Linked DNA regions of Homo sapiens: regions 2 and 3 are each linked to region 1. The links come from fine-mapping of genetic effects on gene expression. A gene starts in region 1. Each other region holds a variant in brackets. All regions are shown on one strand. Distances are from middle to middle. Region 1 holds the start of NME7 (NME/NM23 family member 7). Region 2 overlaps NME7 (NME/NM23 family member 7). Region 3 overlaps NME7 (NME/NM23 family member 7).

The links. PIP is the estimated chance that this variant, and not a neighbour inherited with it, causes the effect.
Region 2: its variant is the best candidate, but not a certain one, in a credible set for the expression of NME7 in fibroblasts (GTEx, PIP 0.83).
Region 3: its variant is the best candidate, but not a certain one, in a credible set for the expression of NME7 in macrophages (Nedelec 2016, PIP 0.72).

Annotation. Positions count from the first base shown.
Region 1 is chr1:169,364,935-169,370,480 of GRCh38, reverse strand. It overlaps NME7 (NME/NM23 family member 7), which reads left to right and starts at 2,684. Exons shown (of 12, transcript NM_013330.5): 1 at 2,684-2,773. The coding sequence starts at 2,771. BLZF1 (basic leucine zipper nuclear factor 1) reads right to left here and starts at 2,286. Exons shown (of 7, transcript NM_001320973.2): 1 at 2,139-2,286; 2 at 931-1,008. The coding sequence starts at 958. RefSeq lists enhancers at 1,707-2,206, 2,465-2,544, 2,207-2,708, 1,648-2,847.
Region 2 is chr1:169,164,526-169,172,637 of GRCh38, reverse strand. It overlaps NME7 (NME/NM23 family member 7), which reads left to right. Exons shown (of 12, transcript NM_013330.5): 11 at 3,084-3,191. Among named protein-coding and RNA genes, the nearest start is that of ATP1B1, 62 kb to the right of the region's middle. The variant C/T (reference allele first, on the strand shown) is at 4,599.
Region 3 is chr1:169,154,158-169,162,269 of GRCh38, reverse strand. The region is part of intron 11 of NME7 (NME/NM23 family member 7); the gene reads left to right. Among named protein-coding and RNA genes, the nearest start is that of ATP1B1, 52 kb to the right of the region's middle. RefSeq lists an enhancer at 226-485. The variant C/G (reference allele first, on the strand shown) is at 4,613.

The DNA.
Region 1 (5,546 bases):
TGATGTCATGGAAGTCATCAAAAGAACGTATCTCAAAAGGCAGGGAATGGTCAACAGTATTAAATATTAGAGAGGACAAATCAGCTAGGACTAAAAAGTGACTACTGTATTTAGCAATTTAGGGGTTGAATTGTGTCCCCCAAATCTTTATTTGTTGAAGTACTAACCCCCCACTACCTCAGAATGAGACTTCATTTGGAAACAGGATCACTGCAGATGTAATTAGTTAAGATGAAATCATACAGGAGTAGACTGGGTTCCTTTTTTCAATATGACTGCTGTCTTTATAAAAAGGGTAAATTTAGACACAGAAACATGCACATAGGGAGAATGCCATGTGAATATGAAGGCGGAGATAAGGGTGGTACGTCTACAAGACAAGGAGCACCAAAGACTGCCAGCAAGCCACTGGAAGCTAGGAGAGTGTCTCTAATGCCTTCCGAAGGAGCACAGCCTTGTTGACATTTTCATCTTGGACTTCTAGCCTCCAGAACTGAGAGAATACATTTTGTTGTTCAAGCCATGCAGTTTGTGGTACTTTGTTACAGCAACCCCAGCAAACTAATACAACATGAAAGAGATCTTTGATACACCCTAGTTGCTTTGTCTATCTACTTAAATCTTTAAAATGTGTATTCTTATTTAAATCGTAATCTTCTAGTGTATAGGGAATATAGCTGTTAAAAACTTTGCATTAACATTAAATGTTTAAGAGTAGTCACCTAATAAATTCTAACTAATGATGTTAAATTTCACTTGTACATCTAAAGTACTGAAATATAAACACTGCACTAAAAAATAAACATAAAGGGATCTGAAATAACAAATGATTCCCAAGGGGGTCCATGAGATCTAGTTATCTGGCTCAAACGTTCCTTCACATCGTCATAAATGTCATGTTTTAAAAACAATTATAAAAAAGCCACTTACCTTTGGTTTCTAAATTTTTAGTAGTCATTTTTTCACCTTAACCACTGAAAATGCACTCCAAGACTTCTGCTGAACAACCTAGAAATGTATGCATATGAAATAATTTTAAAAATATCATATAAACACATAGAGTACCTCCAATTTAAAAGTTATGATATTTTAATTGCTTCTGTATTTAGTACGCATGCATTTAGAAAGAGAAATGTCCCTTATATCCCATTCTCACAGAAGGCATTGTTATGTCTACTAAAAGTCTCAAAAAAAAAAATTAGGGGTGGTTTACTTCTAAATACTCCGTTTCACCATCCTCACCAATACACTCTAAATTGTCAGAAGTATGTCCTGAATTTTAGCCAAGCAAAGGGAATGAAGTTACTGTGGTGGTTTTGTCATCCATATGACAAGAGGAATTTTAAAGTAATTACTTTCTTAGGAGACATACCGACACAATTTGTATACACACACACACATATCAAAAAGGAGCTTCTGTTTAGATGTTTAACAAACGACAAAAAATATTACTCAAGATAACATAATTTATACTTTTTTGGTAATAAAAAGTTAAAATTAAAATAGTGTAGCTCCAAAAGTAAAAAGAGAAACATATCGAGCCCATGCTTTCAGAAATGTATACATTGTCTTACAGTACAGACTCAGATTTACCAGAGAACATATAAGAAGGTGATGCTACTGCAATGATATAAATATGACAAACTGTACACTAGATGACAACTGGTTTCACTACAAAAAAAGATCGTTCTCAGTACTAGATACAACTCAGTTCAATTAGTGAACCCGACGACTAACTTTCTTAACAGTCACAAACTTTTCTACACTTACACTCTACTGCTCCGAAAAGAGGTATCCAAAAAACCCTTCGTAAGAGTAACGATCCCTGAAACTGCCCTTGATAGCTGCTCTGCGAAACGTACAGGCACAGCGAGTGCCTGCTGGCAAATGCCAAATGAAGCGGAGGGGGTGAAGAAGTAAGTAGGGGGAGTGAGCAGGTATGAAAGCGATAGGCCGGGAAGCGACAAGCCTGTCAACTTTGCTGTCCGGGGAAGTCGAAACCTAAGTTTCATCCCTGTCTGAAAAAGTCTTCCCGGAACAATCTTTCCCTAAATCCAAAGCTACTGGCCACCGAGCTCCAGCCAGACCTCCGTCCCTTTCCAACATCCTTAGTTATACCTGCTTGTCCTCGGATTTACCTCTAAGATTCTTATTCTCCGTATTTCAGGGGGCTTCACTTGATAGGCTCTTCGGATCGGTATCACCAGGTTAACTTCTCACAGACCTCTTCCATTCGGAAGCCGACCCGCCCAGTCCCTCCGCATATCCAGCAGCTCTCTCACTCCTAACCACTTCCGATTACTCAGGGTTTCGCTTCCGGAATACGTTTCCAAAAGAGCAGGGTAAACAAATTCTGCAGTGCGTATAAACTCAAGTAACACAGAACACACACTGTAAGGCCTCCGTAAGTGAAAAGCGGACAGATTTCTACTTTAAAATAAAATACCGTACAGCAACTTTTGGAGCCCAAGCCGCATATTCACTTAAACTTCCGGGCCAGCTGTTAAACAAACGGAAGTAAAACTGCCGGAAACAGAATAATGGCGTCTCGTAGCCCCAGGCGACAGCGTGGAGGGGCGGGTCTGTCGATTGGATGAACGCAGCTGAGATTACTCCCAGCCACTAAGGACGAAGAGGTGGGGCGGTGGCGTCCCACGCCTCGTGCGACAGTGGGCGGGGCTTTGTTGCCTGAGTAACCGTATGATGGTGGTGGTGGTGGTGTCTTCCTGTCTCAACGATACCTATTTTCTAGTGCTGAGATCCTGAGACAATGGTGAGTGCCAGGGGATGCCAGAAGAACGGCTCTGGGGTCCTACTTACTTAGCTTTCCAAGTCTTCGGGCGGATGGGCACTTAAAGTTGTCCGGTCCTCCCGACCTTCTCCCCGTTATCTCTTTCCCCCTTCCCACGGGCTGTTCCTGCAGTCTCCTCGCTCTCCGTATTTCTTACAGCACCCTGAATTCCACTAATGTTACTAAGTCTCTAGAGTAATGAAACAGAAAATTTAGGGTAAGGCATCGAGTCTAATAACCTGTTTTGAACAAACATTATGTGTTTGCATTGTTCATCATGGCATTTTTCATGTTCACAGATTCACATTAACGCGCTTTATTAAGAGTATGGGGTGGTGTGTATGTGACTGTCTCAACACTGATCTGAATCTCCCTAGATCTTGGAGTCTTTTTGCTTTTCTGAGTGGCAGAGCACTGCCCCACGCCCCCACGAGGGCCATTAACAGGTGTATGTTGGATCAGCGCTCTTCTATCCAGTTGGTTACCTTCTAGGTCTGTGCTTGCTTTTCTTTTCTCTTTTCTTTTCTTTCTTCTTCTTTTTTTTTTAAACAGAAATTTCTCCTGGGATTGCTTGGAGAGCTTCTGGAATTCACTGTTTGGGCTTCACCCCTGGAAATTCTGAATGAAAGGAATGGAGCTCGGTATTTGCATTTTAAATAAGCCTATAGGTTATTTTAATTCACCCCTATGTTTGAGAGGGTTCTAGTTAATTCACTTAACTACCATATCTTTTAAGCACTTATGGATAACGGACTGGAGGATAGAAAGATCTTTAGATAGTTATAGCTATGAATTTAGAAACAGAGCCCTCACCCACCACCCCTTGTTTCTTCATACTACTCAGCAATCCTTTTGGTTACCCCAGTTTTCCCCTGACCCATTCTCTGTGAAGACATTTTCAAACCTTCCCTTTACAAACCCTGTCTTTTGCCCTCTTCATTTCTCCTTTCTAAACATGATGGAGTATAACAGGCCATTTCTTCAACCTCATGCCCCCAACCTACACATTGCTCTATATTTTTGCCGAGCCTTTAGTCTTGTATTTCTAGTGTAGAGAAAGGGATATTAAAGGATAATCCATCCATCTTTGCTCTTGATCTCATTTGCTTCCATCTGTTACATTTCGCTTCCAGTTGTTTTTTTCTTTCCTGTGCGTTCAGCCTTTTCCTCTCCAGTTTCTTCTCTTCAGTGCTCAAGTCACACATCTTATGAAAATTAAATAAAGCAAAACCATGTCCTCCATCCTGTGTTTATCCAGTTATTTCCTAGTCCTCCTATCTATCAGTAAACTTCTTGAAAGGATATTATTTTTACTTATATCAAACAGACAAAAGTCTTCTGTCTGGCTTCTTTAATGGCTTCAAGAAAGTTGTTCTTGCTTAAGTTTCTAATGGCCTTTTAAATACCAAATACAGTAATTACTTCTCAAAATTTACATTACTTAGTCTCTTTGTGACAACTGAGGTTCATAGTCATTAATTCCTTTTACTGGCTGTGCCTGGTTTTTGAATGTCATTCTTTGGAATTAACTCCTTGATTACTTTCATTTCTTAGTCTAGACATTTTCCTTGGGTGATTTTGTCCACTCACATGGATTCTACTAACACCTTTGATTTTGCTTCTAAATTTCAATTTTCCTCTCAGATCTACTAATGCCTAACTCAGTTGCTTCCCGGACACATCTGTCTCAAATGTCCTTCAAACTTAATATGACCAAAACTGAACTTGCTATCTTTCCTCCTGGTTTCTCCTATTTTCACCAAGTTAAATAATGCTACTACTATATTATAACCTAAACTAGAAATCAGAGTTATCCTACATTCCTCCCTCTTCTATTTCTCCCATATTCAGTTGTTCACTAGATCAAATTTTAGTTTGTCATCTCCTCATTTCGTGATTATTTTAATAGTGACTTTTACAGTCTGGTCTGGAAATTCTCCAATCCATTATTTTCTCTGCCACAAGAAGGAATTTTTAAAAACCCAACCTGTTGATTTACTCACCTCCTTAAAACTCTAGATTCCCTATTTCCTACAGTAAAATGTCTAGAATGGCACACAAGTTCCTCCATGAACAAGCACTTTTCTGTCTAGCTTTTGCCTTTCCCTTTCCATACTTAAAAAAAAAAAATTCTCTTGCCTTTTAGCTACTTGCTTTTCATTGAACATACCAAGCAACTTCAAACTGGTAGTATGCCTCCTCTTTCTACTTTGCACTTGCAATTCCTTCTACACAGAATACTTGCACCCTCTTGTTGCTTGCCAAACTTATTTATTCTCCTATTACAGGCCAACGTGTTCTTCTTGCCCACTTCCCAGAAAGGCCAAACATTGAGAATGCAGGAGTTGCAGCAGAGAAAGAGTTTAATGGAGGCAAGGCAGTTGAGTGGAAGGATGGGAAATATTTCTAAAATCCGCCTCCCTGACAGCTTGGAAGTTGTGGTTTTCAAGGATAATTTTGTGGGCAGGTTGGTAGGGAATGGGCGCTGCTGATTGGTTGGGGATGAATTTATAGGTGTTTCCAAACTGTCTTCCTGTGCTGAGTCAGTTGTCTAGGTGAGAGTCATAGGACTAGTAGAGTCAGTTTCTTGGTATGAGGCATGTATCTGGGTGGCATCAGGAGGTTTGCCAGAATGCAGAAGCCTGGAAAATATCTCAAGACCAATCTTAGGTTTTACAATAGTGATGTTATCTAAAGGAGCAATTGGTGAAGTTACAAATCTTGTGACCTCTGGCTACATGACTTCTGAATAGTA
Region 2 (8,112 bases), 200 kb after region 1:
AAGATTTTTTGAGCAAGTAAATAACATGATCGTATTGGCATTTAGGTACAAAATTATAGCAGCATGAAAAATGAACTAAAGATGGTTTGTTGTGTTGGAGAAATAGAGAATGTCAGTAAGATGAAGTGTCATGAAGATGGCAGAAGACCATATGTGCCCATCATCCCCTTGCTTACCAAGTCCTTACAGGAATTTACAGGAGATACTGTTTCACTGTGTGTTGTTTTAAAGAGTAAATCTCCAGTGATGCTGGAAAACAAGGAAGAGTACACACATACACATACACACACACACACACACACACACACACACACGTATGTTTTTGTTTTTGTGGGTTTGTTTTTTTTTTGTTTTTTTTTAGTTTTGTTACAGGCCATAAACTTCAAAAGACTCAAAGCAGATAGGATTGTATCGTTGAGGAAAACCAACACTCTAAAACGTGCAGGAGAGAACTGCTCCAGAAGGGGTAGGGGTACTGGGTGGGCTGCACATCAGACATATGGATGCAAGGCTGAGGAAGGGCATGGGGCCTTAAGCAGGGTGGTTAGTTGGAGGGCTGCATGAAGAGCAGCAGAGTAAATCAGCGCCTTCACATTTGCTTGCTTACATTGAGCAGAAGGCAGTTGATACTTTTAGCCACAGCCTAAGGCACTGAATGTGGGGCTTGAGCTAAAGAGGCAGAGCAATGGGAAGGCAGCTAATAACACTCAGGAAAAATGGTAGCACCCCCTTCTGAAAGGAAGGCAACCAGAATACCTCATCTAGCAGCATGTCCCTGGCATCTATGACAAGCAAATAGAGAACTCATAAAAAAAAAGAAAAAAAAAAAAACAGCCAGGAATTACCAACCATTTTTGTTGTTGTTGTTGTTTTTGAGATGGAATCTCGCTCTTTCACCCAGGCTGGAGTGCAGTGGCGTGATCTCGGCTCACTGCAACCTCCGCACCGCCGGGTTCAAGCCATTCTTCTGCCTCAGCCCCCCAAGTAGCTGAGACTACAGGTGCGTGCCACCATGCCCTGCTAATTTTTGTATTTTTAGTAGAAACAGGGTTTCACCATGTTGATCAGGCTGGTCTCTAACTCCTGACCTCAGGTGATCCACCCGCCTCGGCCTCCCAAAGTGCTGGGATTACAGGCATGATCCACCGCGCTAGGCCAACACACATGAACCTCTTCAGATTTCAAGTGCTGTGCATGTAGCAGACACTTATATGAAAGTAATCTTTTAATGAATGTAGTGCAAGTTAAATAAAATTTTCTTTTTTTGAGACAGGGTCCTACTCTGTCTGACAACCCAGGCTGGAGTGCAGTGGTGTCATTTTGGCTCACTGCAGCCTCGACCTCACAGGCTCAAGCCATCCTCCCACACAGCCTCCCAAGTAGCTGGGACTACAGGCGTGCACCACTACACCTGGCTAATTTTTGTATTTTTTGTAGCAACGGGGTCTCTCTGTGTTGCCAAGGCTGCTCTCAAACTCCTCCCAAAGTGCCGATTATAGGTATGAGCCTGGCCATCAAACAAAATTTGATAGAGAATAGGTTCTAATAAAACAGTTTACTGGAACTGAGTAATTTAAAAGTGTTTTTTTCCCTGACCGGAAATAAGAAAAAGAACGTTAGTACTCACTTTTCACAATTTCATAAATTACATCTTATGTCACAAAATGACAGCTTCCCACTATATAAGCAGAGTAAGGCTTCTGCTTGTTTTCTGAGATGGAGTCTGATCTGTCGTCCAGGCTGGAGTGCAATGCACAGTCTCGGCTCACTGCAACCTCCATCTCCCAGGTTCAGGTGATTCTCCTGCCTGAGCCTCCTAAATATCTGGTATTACAGGCACGCACCACCATGCCCAGCTAATTTTTGTAGAGACAGGGTTTCACCATGTTGAGACAGGGCTTCACCATGTTAGCCAGGCTGGTCTCGAACTCCTGACCACAAATGATTCACTCACCTCTACCTCTGAAAGTGTTGGGATTACAGGTGTGGGCCACCACGCGCAGCTGAGTAGGTTTTTAATATTGGATACTTACTTGCTAGAAAAATTACGGAGAACAGAATGAAAGTAATAAATATGAAATAAAATATAAAGACATCCTTATTTTCTACTTTATCAAAATGTTTTTCCTAAACATAATACATTTATAGCTGACATTTGATGGAACCCTGGCAAATAAAACTTAAGTAATTAAATAAATGCATGTCTTTAAAACATCCTTAAGTGATGGAACCACAAATGTGAGTGCTGCTCAGAATCTTTGCACCCTAAGCTACACCTGTCATGATTCTTTCTGATTTCCACTTTCATAGAGGTGACCCACTTACGACCTTGGCCTCTCAATCTGTTGTTCTTCTTTCTTCTAACATTCTTGCCCTCAGACTAACCTTATCCATGGTTATGCCTTAAAACTGATCATTATCAATCACTATAGCCCCCTCTCCTCCCACCCACAGTAATCTCAGTCTCGAGTATCTTTTAACTTTCCAGCTCTCTTCTTCTAACATACAGATCTCAATAATTATCCCATACCACTAGGAGCTCAAATTCATTGATCCACCTTTTCATTGTCAATTACCTCTTTATCCCCTAGGTCCTCTCTTCCTGTCTTTCTCAATTTAAATTTTTTTGTACATCATTATCATTCCCTTGCCTCTCTCTAACCCTCATTAAATTCAGGGCTATTTGTGACCATATTTTTTCTCTTAAAGATGAACTACCATTAAGTTGATACAGCTAACATTTTTTTAAAAGCTTTTGAAATCAATAGCATCAAATTGGTTCATTTTAAATCAAAGTTGTTAAGATCTCTACTGTCTTTATAAAATACAAGTCTTTCACAGTAATGAACTAGCTTCACATTTTGTGTGATTCCCATAATCTATTGATAAAAAGAAATGCAATTATTATTTTTCCCCGATGTAGATGAAAGCAGACTTTACATTGGGCCACAGAAAAACCCTTATAAGCACTGTCTATATATAACATGTATTTCATAAATAAGTTAGCGTTTCATATAGCTAGTGTTTTTCTTATTTATACCATATGACTAACATTAATCTATATGTGAATGTATGTTTAATAGGAAATTGCCCGGCATTTACGCCCTGGAACTCTCAGAGCAATCTTTGGTAAAACTAAGATCCAGAATGCTGTTCACTGTACTGATCTGCCAGAGGATGGCCTATTAGAGGTAAGATAAAGAAGGTAAACATCCTATTTATATTTCAAGCTCATAAATTATCTCAGGAGTTCTGATGTGTAAGAAAACTTTTTGTTTTATTGTTATACTTCAAGTTCTAGGTTACATGTGCAGAGAGTGCAGTTTTGTTACATAGGTATACACGTGCCCTGGTGGTTTGTTGCACCCATCAACCCATCACCTACATTAGGTATTTCTCCTAATGTTATCCCTCCCCTATCCCCCCCACCCCCTGACAAGTCCTGGTATGTGATGTTCCCCTTGGATGACTCTGTTACTTGGCCATCTGATGATTTTGGACTGCAACTTTGAAAGACCAAATTGTAGCATGCTGCATAGCTTTCAAAGAATTTAGATATTTTTTTCTGGTTGGCATACATTTTGATTTTAAAATAATTAAATTCTGTGAAATTTGTTTTTATATCAGGTGACTATACCATCACCATAAATTGCTAGTCATGAAAATACATACAGTTGACCCTTGAACAATGTTTGAACTGTGCTGGTCCACTTATATATTCATTTGTTCAATAAATATATTAGAAAGTTTGGAGATTTGTGACAATTTGAAAAAACTCTTGGGTGAACTTTGTAGCCTAGAAATATCAAAAAAATAGAAAAAAATGTGTATTATGAGTGCATAACATATATATAGATACTAGTCTATTTATGTGTTAATCGACTTTTTGTTATCGATGAAGCTCCCGGTCAACAGCATTAGTAGTTAAGCTTTTGGGGAATCAAAAGTTATATGTAGATTTTTCCACTGTGCAGGGGATAGGTACCCCATACCTCCACACTGTTTAAGGGTCAACTGTTTTCCAATGAAATTAAGAAGTCTAGCCAGGCTCAGTGGCATGCACCTGGAGTCCCAGCAACTTGGGAGGCTTAAGTGGGAGGATTGCTTGAAGCCAGGAGTTCAAGGCCACAGTATGCTATGATTGCATTTGTGAATAGCCCCTGAACTCCACCCTGGACATCATAGCGAGACTTTGCCTCCAAAAAAGGCGGGGAAGGAGTCTAATATACAGTGTGATAGTGTTACCCATGGCAAATTCATATGGGTCTGCAGCAACCTCAGTATCTGCCTCTTCAGAAGAAAGAATTCAACTGAGGAAGCATAAGGCAGAAGGAGAGACTGAGGCAAGTTTTAGAGCAGGAGTGAAAGTTTACTTAAAAGCTTTAGAGCAGGAACAAAAGAAAGGAAAGTACACTTGGAAGAGGGCCAAGCAGGTGACTTGAAAGACAAGTGTATGGCTTGACCTTTTGACTTGAGGTTTTTATATGATGGCATACCTCCAGGGTCTTGCACTACTTCTGACCACTTGCCCAACTCCTGAGATCTTATTGAGAAGCCGCTCGTCACCAGTTTTAGGTGTTTTCTATCTACTAGGAGAC[C/T]GCCGTTCCCTGGCGCCAGCTGTGACCAATTATTACTTCAGAGAGACAGTTAACAACCACCTGACCATCACCTGATGGTCTCCCAACACTCCTGGTGTGAGGTATGGGAGCCCTTTCCTGCCCTGCTCATACCCGACTAGCTACCAAGTATAACAATAGCACTCAAAGTGATAGCTAACATTTTGGTCACCTTTATTAACCAGATTCTACCATGACACATGTGTTGTATAAATGATTTCTTTTCATTGCCATAGCAACTCCAATAGGCTGGTATTCATTATATCTGTTTTTTTAGGAAACTGAAATTGAGACTCAGAGAGGTTAAGTAACATCCCCAAACCAGACAGCTAATATGAAACAAAGCCATATTTGATCTCTCATCTTTTAAATTAACATAAAATATGAAATGAAAAATTCTGAGAAAATATAAGTGAAAATGGGTCCAGTTTAGGGTTAAGAAAGTTATTTCTAGGCCAAAATCCAAGAAGGAAACTGTAAATAAATATTTTATTTTTTTAACTTCTTATAGATTTTAAAATTTTTGTGTCAAAATAAGCTAAATGAAATTTAAAAAGAAATAATAAATTTAAGTGATTAAATGAAGAAAAATGGTTGATATCCTTAATACACATTTATTTTAATGAGTATTATGTTTTATGTGATCAAATCTATTAGTCTTTTAAAAAAAAATTATGTCCTGGAAGTTGTACATAGAAAAGCCTTCCCCAAATATTTTGTTTTCATTTTCATACATTGAAATGTTCAATCCACCTGGAATTTATTAGACATATAGTGTGAGGTATGGATTTAGCCAGCTATCACAATATTATTAATAATAAACAATTTATTTTATTTAAATGGCTAAATCCATCCATCCTTTCATTGTTCTTTCTCATTTATTGAATACTTATATACATCCTTGCCTGTTTCTGAACTTCCTATTTTATTCCATTGATCTGTACCAGCAAAATACTGTTTTTATTATTGTAGGTTATTTATACTTTACAAAAGTGTTCTTGGTTAGTCCCTAAAATGTATTCCTCCAAATGAACTTTTTATTTATTTATTGAGAGGGAGTCTCACTCTGTCGCCCAGGCTGTAGTGCAGTGGCACAATCTCGGCTCACTGCAACCTCCGCCTCCTGAGTTCAAGCATTTCTCCAGCCTCAGCCTCCTGCATAGCTGGGATTACAGGTGCATGCCACCATGCCCAGCTAATTTTTTGTATTTCTAGTAGAGATGAAGTTTCACCATGTTGGCCAGGCTGTCTCCTGACCTCAGGTGATCCACCCACCTCAGCCTCGAAAAGTTCTGGGATTACAGGCATGAGCCACCACGCCTGGCCAACCTCCGAATGAACTTTAAATGACTTTTTACCGAGGTCTTTACTCCACCCCTACAAAATGCAAGTGGGACTTTCAGTGACATTACAATATGTTTATAAATTATATGGAAATGTCATATCTGTAATAGTGAGTTTCTCCAACTTCATATGTGGTATGCCTCTCCTTTTATGCAAGCAGTAGAGTCACTTTTTTTCATATAGTTCTTAGTAATAGTCTATTAAATTTATCACCATAAGTTTCTTTGTTGTTGTTATAGAAAATGACTTTGTTAGCTCCATTAAGATTTTCTGTTATAATCCAAGATATTTGTAAAACCTTATCTATTATGCATCTTTGTATGAAATTTAGACATACTTGTGAAATGTAAAAATGTACCAAGCTTTATTTTTTAATAACCAAAAAGATTAAATGTTTATTTTAAATTTTAACTTATTTTATAAATAAATATTTCCTCACTTTCTGATAGCTTGGACCTATCAACTAGGTTTGAATAGAGACTTTTATTTAATGAGACTGAAATGTTATTAACCATGAAATTTATACCCATTAAAAATATTATCCAAGAGGGCCTGAGGGGAAAAAAAGGAAAAAGTATTATCTAAGGTATGCCTATGATTTTGTTCATATTGTTTGAAATAGATTATTACTGCCTGTAGTTTGCAAAGCCATTTACTAAATGATTGCAATTTTTCTGATCTAACTTCACTGGAGATTTCAGTGTACATTAATGACTGTGTGGTTTAGAGAATTAATCAAAAATCAGAAGTTAGAGCATCAGTAGCTTCCTCTTATATGGCTGATTATTTTCTTGATATGAACTTGAATAAGTCACATTTTCTTTCCATGCCTCACTTCTTTTATCAATAAAATGAAATAAAGAGTGCTGAGATAGTCAAGGATGCCCTTATCAATTAGCTACTTTCAGATTATTATTTGGCTTCAGATGATAAAATATTATGAAAATACATAAAGGCCAAATGAGGTATCTGGCTATAGGTCTTCAAAGTGAAAATCCGAGTGACACAAGACAAGTTGTCTGATCAGTGAGCACTTTGTTCCTAGGATCAGCTCTTCATTAGGGGGACATCCTTTAGATGCAGAGTGACCATAAAATTTATTGCCCAATTAAACACCCTTTGAAAGGCAGCTCTAATCAGAAAAGATGTTCGGACAAGAGGCATAAACCAGAACTGTCACACGCAAACTAGAATATATTGTTATCCTATTTATATGGCAAGAAGAGAAAGAGGGGAACATGCTACTTCTCTTTAATCTTTCCCTAATGTGATGTTTACTGAGCTATGTGTCATGGGTATAGAGCTCAGAAAGTATGGCTTCAGTTTATATTTTGTCATTATCCATTATTTTATTTATTTATTTATTTATTTATTTATTTTTATAGCAAACAATTATAGAACATGTTTTACTTGCTGGATTGTGATAGGATCAAACAATTCATTTCTACTGTTCTCCTAGAACTCATAGTAAGTTTGAGAGGTCAAAGATCTTAGCATGAATACAGAAATTTGTTTTCTTTGAATATTGCTAATTGTGACCCAGTCAATTTTGTGATTATAGGAATAAATTATGGTATTTATGAGACATTCTAGAATGTTCTGTCACTGTTAATGTTCTCTTATACTCTGCTGGTTGTAACTACAATGATCTTAAATTTGTGTGTTAAAGATAGCATTGATGGTAAAATGTTCAGCTGAGTAATCAAATACTAGTTTTCTATTAATGGCAAAGAACTTTTGAAGTAATAATGCCCACTGCTGGCAATGCTACAGTAAAGTAGATACCCTCATATAGCTGGTGACAACTATGGGCAAAACATATTGAAAGCCTTGGAATATTTCTATAACTTTTGTCCCAGAATTCTACTTCTTAGGATCTAAGCAAAGGAAGAGAGTGGCAGCAGGACTACAAAATGGAAAGTTATCTGCACAGATGTTCATGGAAGGAGTATTTGTGATCATTAACAATGGAAATAATACGCATGTTTACAGATACATCCCACCTTACCTCCTCTAAGAAACCTTCCATGGCACCCATAGTCTGCATCAGTCCGTATGTGTGTTTTCATAGCACTTTGCCTTCCTATACTATAGTGGTGTAGCCAAGTCAAAATAGCTCTGTACTCCTGGGCAAGTTACTCATCTCACTATG
Region 3 (8,112 bases), 210 kb after region 1:
TCAGTTCACCAAGACTGTGGTATTGAAGTTACCATTTTAATTGACAAGAGGCCGCCCACATAAGAGATGGAATTATTACTCAAATCAGTCTCCCCAAAGGATCAAAGGTTAAGGTTTTTATGGACAATTTGGTGGGCAAGGGCTAGGAAGTGTGTACTGCTGACTGACTGGGGATGAAATCATAGAGATGTAGAAAACGGTCCTCTTGTGCTGAGTCTACCTCTGGGTGGGGCCACAGGATCAGTTGAGTCATAAGTCAGGGTCAAGGTGAGGTCCATCGGTTGCCGGAATGCATATCTAAAAAAAACATCTCAAAAGACCAATCTTAGGTTTTACGATAGTGATGTTACCTATGGGATCAATTGGGGAGATCACAAATCTTGTGACCTCTGGACCACATGACCCCTGAGCAGTAAAGCATTATAGAACCTAGGTCTACATTTTAGCAGCATTCAGGCCCCTCCCATAATATTAATATTGTGGCTTTTCATTAGTTTTACAAAGACAGTTTTCAGTTCCCTAGCCAGGAAGGGGTTAGTTCTTGTTTTCAGGTTAAACTATAGACTAAGTTCCTCTCATGGTGAGCTTGGCTGACACCCAGGAATGAGTGAAGACAGCCAGTCTGTGAGGCCAGAAGCAAGATGGAGTCAGCTATGCTAGACTCCTCTCACTGTCATAATCTTTGCAAAGTCAGTTTCATAAGTAGTTGATCAAATCTGAATTTGGATACATAATTACTTCTGCATGGATTCTTATTCTGGTACACTCTGGGGGAAAAAATAGTGAATCAAGGATTAATCAGAAATAAACATAGGTGCATGGTGACTAAGATGATTGGACAGGCCCCAATTTCTTGGCCGTGATTAACGCAGGCCTCTGCACATACTGACACTCATAATTTATCTTTAGTTTTAGCTTCTATCTTGAAAGAAGAAGAGTTGTGATTTTTAGTAGTACATTGTCAAAGAGGGAACAACTTGTACAAATACAAAAGCAAACAGCTTTCTCTTAGAGATCTAAAAATAGTGCAGTAAGACTGGGGCTTTGACCAGGAGGTAGAAAATGGCAAGAGATAAAGCTGGAAACATCAGCAGGGGCCTCGTAAAGTCATATTAAGACAACTGAACTTCATCTTGAGGCCATTAGGGATCCAAATAAATGTTTTACTCAGGGGAATAGCACAATGATACCTGTGTTATAGAGGTCACTCTGGCTGCAGTATAGAGAACAGATGAAAGGGCCCTGGGGTCAGGCAGGGAAACAAGTGGGTGGAGTCTAGGGGGACAGAGACTAGGTAGAAGTCTATTAAGTAATTCAGGAGAAAATTCTGGTTTCCTGAATTGCTATGGCAGAAGGGATAGCCAGAAGCAGTGAGCTTCAAAAGACATTTAGTGGGGTAGAACAGAAAGCCTCAGAGACTAATTGGATGTGAAAGGTAGCCTGTGGGAATGAATCCAGATTAATGCCTATCCCCAAGCAAACGTGATAGTACCATCTTTATCTGTGTTACCAAAATCTAATAATCTAAAAATGTCTGAAAACCAAAGTTTTTTCATAAGTTTAATGGTAAAACCTAACCTGTCTTATATCAAGTTGTGTATCATTAAACAGTTTTGTTTCAGTAGCTTGACAAAACATTTAATGTATATCATTTTTATTTAACCTATTTAGTGTGACTCTTCACACTGCTGTAAAAATATTAATGTATTTGATGATGAGTGACTTCCCAGACCCCTTGGAGTATTATATAATATATACTATATATTCCAGATTATTATTGTAAATTCCAAAACATCTAGTACCAGGAGTCTTGAATAAGAGATAGTAGACAAAGTTTGAAGTGGCCATGGAGAAAGTGCTGATGACAGAATATATATTTATGGGTTGTATTTACAATTCAGTTGATTTAGGAGATTACATGTATTATGGTGTTATTATTTTCTGGTGAACAGTTTGGCCCAGGGGTGAGGTTTTTACAGGAGGGTACGATGAGGAAAGATAATTGAGGATGTTAGCAACTATAGTTGAAGTTATAAACAAGGAAAGATGTGATGGCAGGAGGTGCTTGAAGAAAGGGATAAAGTAGATGGGCCAAGGGACCGAATGCTTTTCTAAGGTACCTACAGAGACCCCAGGAATAACAGGGAAAGAGCTGTGTCACTGTACACTTCAGAAGTGGAGCTTTCCATGGTAATGGATGATATGATTCAGGGTGTGGCCATGGAAGGAGGTAGCCAGTGTGGAGTGGAGATCAGTATCAGTCACTAGAGATATGTAAGTCTAGGAACTGAGAGAAGCTTTCATGTTGAGTGGCATTGAAATCACCTAGGATCATGGTTAGGAGGTAGGGTGGAGAAGAAAATGGTGACTCAAATTCTGAAGTCTTTCACAAACTAGGGAAGTTTGTGAACCAAAGGTGTGACAGCAACAAGGAGAAAAGATCTAGCCAGATGGCATAAGCCTCAAAAAGTCAGGAGTTCATATATAAGGGGAGGAGGTCTTAAAGTAGCACTGGGACAAAGGATAGAACTACTCCTACCCTCCTGGCCAGAGATTCTTATCCTGCGGACTCCAAGGAATTGATGCCCTTAGGGGATATCCAAGTTTCATTTAAGGCTAAGAGGCCTATGAAGAGATTCAAGTTTCAAGGGAGTTTACAATGGCACTGAAGTTCTGCAGAAAGCAATAGGAATAGTTAGAGATTGGGGAAGGGAAGAAGAATCTCAGAGCCATGTGAGAATAGCAGGATCGGAGAAAAGAGGTGAATATAATGGCCTCCATGTTGGTGGGTTGGGGTGTGACAAATTAATAATTAATTTTCTGGTCACTAGTAAATAGAGACCTTAAAATCATCTTTAAAAATGAGAACTTTTATTTTTCCGCCCCATAATTTGAGATCTGAAGGTAGGCATGTGGGACTGGTATGGCAACTCCGTAATACCATCAGTCACCCAGTCTCCTCCTCCTTGGTACCGTCATCATCTTTAGTATGTGCTTTTTGCCTTGTTGCCACAGAATGGTTGTCAGAACTCGAGTTATCACTTCTTTTTTCCAGGCATAAAGAAAGAAGAGTGAGGGCAAAAGGCGAAGAATGCCAGCTGAGCTAACACTTCCTCCCTCGCCCACCTTTAAGCTTTTCCAAAAACCAGAGCCCTCACCCAACAGCTTCAGGTTATGATTTTTGTTGTTGCTGGGATTTAGTACTGTGGCCGCCCCTTTTTAGAAAGGAAGTGAGTAAATGTAGTTCTGTTACTTGGGAACATTGCTCCCACTAGCAAAAATCAAGATACTGTTAGAAGGAAGAAAGGGAGAATGAATGTTGGAAAGGTAAAAAGCAGTATCTTCTCCAGGTGGTCAAGAGGCATTTAGCTAGTAAACAGGCTTCCAATGGAACTGGCCCTAGCTAATCCCTAGTGCAGTGGTTCTTATGTGTCCTCCCCTGCTCCAGAACAGCTGCATCACCTGAGAACTTAGGGGAAATGAAATTCTCGGGGTCCACTGTAGGCCAGCTGCTTAGCAACTCGGGGATTTGACCCAGGAATCTGTGCTTTAACAAGCCCTCCAGGTGCTTCTGATGCCCATGAAATTTGAGAACTACCGTCCTAGTGCAGCGGTTCCCAATCAATGGCATGCATTAAAATCACCTATAGAGTTTTTTTTAACTATGTAAGCCTAGAGCCCTATTATAGAAGATTCTGGTTAAGGAGGTCTGGTATGAGCTCCTTATATCTATAGAGTAGAGCCCCGTTATTCATGGTTTCACTTTCCACAGCTTCAGTTACCCATGGTCAACCATGGCCCAAAAATATAAAATGGAAAATTCCAGAAATAAACAATTTATAAGTTTTAAATTGTATGGTACCTTAAAGAGCAGGGTTGCAAAAATTAAAAAATAAAAAGTTTTAAATTGTATGCCGTTCTGAGTAGTATGAGGAAATATTACAGTATATTGTTATAATTATGCTATTTTATTGTTAATCTCTTACTGTGCCTAATTTATAAATTAAACTTTATCTCTCATACATATGGAAAAACGTAGTATAGATAGAGTTCGGTACTATCCACAGTTTCAGGCATCCACTGGGGGAACTGGAACATATTCCCCACTTATAAGGGGGCACTACTGTATTTTATGTTGCAGGTGATTCTGATATTCTGATATGGCTGATAGTTAAACTAGCATTTAGAAACCACTGTCCCAGTGAGTAGGGGCACACCAGACTTTTTTAAAACTTGTAAAAGAACCTATCAACATAGTAAACAGACAACCTATCGAATGGGAGAAAATTTGGGCAAACTGTGCATCTCACAAAGGTCTAATATCCAGCACTTATACAAAACTTAAACAAATTTACCAAAAAGATAAAAAACCTCCATCAAAAAGGACATGAACAGACACTTCTCAAAAGAAGACATACACCAGACTTCTTCGAAGTCGGCTTTGGTTCTGCTTTTGAGGAAAGCCTAGACCCTGTGAGAAGGCCAGCAAAGGGATTGTTTTGCTTTCAGGACTTAACTGACAGTTGGAAGCAGCAGCAGCCTCTTAACTTTGAAAGGATCAATAGCCTCTCTAGATGGATTTAATTGTAGCCAAGGGTTGTTACACTTCCAA[C/G]GGAACTCCAGTCTCTGAATGGGGGAATCTGTGGCTTCTGTGGAAGGAGCCAGCCATGACCTGATTGATTACCCAGATTTTTTGGGGGGAAGTCTCAATGTGAAGGCTGCCATTTGCCCTCCCAGGGAGGAGGAGAGGCCTGAGATATGTGGTATGCATGTATTGCATGGATGCTGAGGGTAACAAGGGCAGAGGCCCTGGGTTTCTTGCAGCTTAAAATAGTTATCTGCAGGTTCATCAAATCTGCACTCACCATTTGGCATGGTCATGTGGCTCAGAGGTGTACAGGGGACCAACTCTTGTCATTCTCCCTGTGGGTTGTGTAAGTGCCTTGAGGACCTGGGCTTATAAGGGACTTTTGTATCTCCAGCTGCTAACATATTGCAGGCTTTTAGTCTGTTGAGTAAATGCATGTGGGAATATATCATGAATGGGGACAGTGCACCTCCATACCCTCTCTCTCTTTATGTGGCGGAAATGTCTCAATGACCTGATGAGAGTGAGCCCCACTTTCAAGTACCACATCTCACCATTCCCTCCACCTGCCAGTTGCCAGAAAAGTCCACTGCAGCATCCCAAAAATGTGAACAATTATTATGTATCAATTAAAAAGGCCACGTCCACCAGCATCTTCTTTCATTGCTGTTTATTCAAGTAAAACCTGAAATATGTGCATGTGGAAAGCGAATGGTTTGCATGGATTCTTTTCTTCCTTCTCAAACCTGATATTTCAGAAGTCTCTACATTCATCGTAAAAACATCATGATAATATAAGAGGCCTTAAGCTATCAAATTGTAATTCTTTATGGCCCAGTTAGTATTTCATCAGCATTGGTTGTTTTCTCAGATAAAAGAATCTTGGATAAGGAGCAATTTCACATTCCCTCCTATATCCCGTCATAGTGGGGCATAAGTTCATTGCTAGATTCAAAGGGAGTTACAGGTTCATAGGTCTTTCTGTTTCTCAAGTACAGTGCCAGCTCCACCTTTCTTCAGATAGGCTGCCTTCTGAATCTGAAAAGTAACAAGCTTAATGACTTAAGAACTGTATTTAATATAATTTATCCCACTTTATATAGGCACTTATAAAATCATTTGCCGAAGACTCTAGGATTATTTTAGATTAATTTATTTTGTATAAATTGGTTAATTAATAACTATGGAAAATCCATATAAAATAAATAGACACAATCATTGGACTAAAAGTGACCTTACAGGGGGCATTTAAGAATCTCCAGGCATTTTGTCTCAGCACTTTTTGCATCTTCTCTACCTATTCCCTGGGAAATGGTTCTCAAACAGTAGCACAATTCCTGGATGGCTTTTTAATTTTTTTTTTAATTTTTTTGAGACAGAGTCTCACTCTGTCACCCAGGCTGGAATGTAGTGGCATGATCACAGCTCACTGCAACCTCGACCTCCCAGGCTCAAGTGATCCCTCCTCAGCCTCCCTAGCAGCTAGGACCACAGGCATGCACCGTCATGCCCCACTAATTTTTTTTTGTAGAGACAGGGTCCCCCTGTGTTGCCCAGGCTGCTCTAGAACTCCTGGGCTCAAGCAATCGTCCCACCTTGGTCTCTCAAAGTGTTGGAAATTACAGGTGTGAGCCACCATGCCTGGCTGGGCTTTTTAAAAATACGGATTGCTGGGCTGTACCCCCCAGTGTCTAGTTCAGTAGACCTGAGATAGAGCCTGAGAATTTGCATTCTAACAAGTTCCCAGTTAGTGCTGATGCTATTGGTTTAGAGTACCACACTTGGAGAGCCACTGTTCTGAGCCAAAAAACACTGTGCACTCTCCATTAAGTCAAGTTGTTCTCTTGATTAATTTTTGTCAAGCTGTTGTCAGATTTGACATTTCACAGACCTGGAACATTTCAAAAAAAAAAAAAAAACTAAACAGTAATAAAACCCACTTCAGGGATAGACACAATGATAAAGTTTTTAAAATTTAACAAATGAAGACATTAGAAAAATTTGTTTCCCATCATCATCGTTTTGTTTTAAAAGGACATTTAATCACCAACAGCATTTTATCACAGAATAATGGACTGTCTCTTCAACTGAATAAATTCAGCTTTACCTGAAGCTCACTTTATTGCTATTGCATGCCAAAGGCATGATGGTCGAAGCAGTCCACTTCAGGCACAGGCAAAACAGCATTGCATCTTCTGTAGATCATTTTAAAACAATAATAGAATCCACTAATAGTTTGTCTGCTTTTTGTTATCACCATAAACAGGCAGTTCCAAACAACGTCAGTGAGAAAATACTGCCCCTTCCCCAGGGTGGACTACTCCTGCCAACCCTTGCTTCATCACTGCTTTGTTGCCCTCATTTTTCCCATTTTGCCAGAAAGCAGTGAAATGTCATCCTAGACCCTCACCATCTGGTGGTTGGGAGCAACTGGGCTAAGTTACACATGCTTATGGAGTCTTTGATTGATAATTTTATTCAAACTTGATATGGAAAACATATATCACATTTCATAGGTCAAAGAGGAATGTAAACTAGTTGAGTCCTGCGAGTGGTGATTTTATCTATGTTAAAGAAAATTGGGACAGGTGCTGTGGTAATCCCAGCACTTTGGGAGGCTGAGGCAGAAGGATTGCTTGAGCCAAGGAGTTCAAGACCAGCCTGGACAACACAGCAAGACCCTGTCTCTATCTTAAAAAAAAATTTTTTTAAATTATACAAATTTTAAAAACATATTTTAAAAATAAAGAAAAAATCCTTTATAATTATTTGGAGAAATAGAGTATTCTTTAACACTTATACATGGGCACAAATATTTTTAAAAATATTTATTTAACTAGGACTAATGGACAAAGGTAGAAAATTCTGATTTTTTTTTTTTTTTTAGACAGAGTCTTGCTCTGTCGCCCAGACTGGAGTGCACTGGCTTGATCTCAGCTCACTGCAACCTCCACTTCCCGGGTTCAAGCGACTCTTCTGCCTCAGCCTCCTGAGTAGCTGGGACTGCAGGTGCACGCCACCATGCCCATCTAATTTTCATGTTTTTAGTAGAGACGGTGTTTTACCATATTGGCCAGGCTGGTCTCGAACTCCTGATCTGCTCACCTTGGCCTCCCAAAGTGCTGGGATTACAGGTGTGAGCCACCGTGCTTGGCCTCTGATTTTCAAATTCAAAATAAAAAGCCAGAGATTTTTTTATAATATTGAGTTCTTCAATGTAACATGAGGAATTAAAAATTAATTTTATCTCCTTAATCCATGGCTTAATTTTAAGTTAACTACCACATGTTATTTTATTTAAATTTCATTCATTCATTGATATGAATCCGCAGTCATTTCACCAGGTATTGTTTTGAAGATACACATTTCTGCCCAGCACAGTGGCTCACACCTGTAATCCCAACACTTTCGGAGGCTGAGGTGAGAGAATCACTTGAGCCCAGGAGTTTGAGACCAGCCTGGGCAACATGGCAAGACCCAGTCTCTAAAGAAATACAAAAATTAGCCAGGTGTAGTGGCATGTA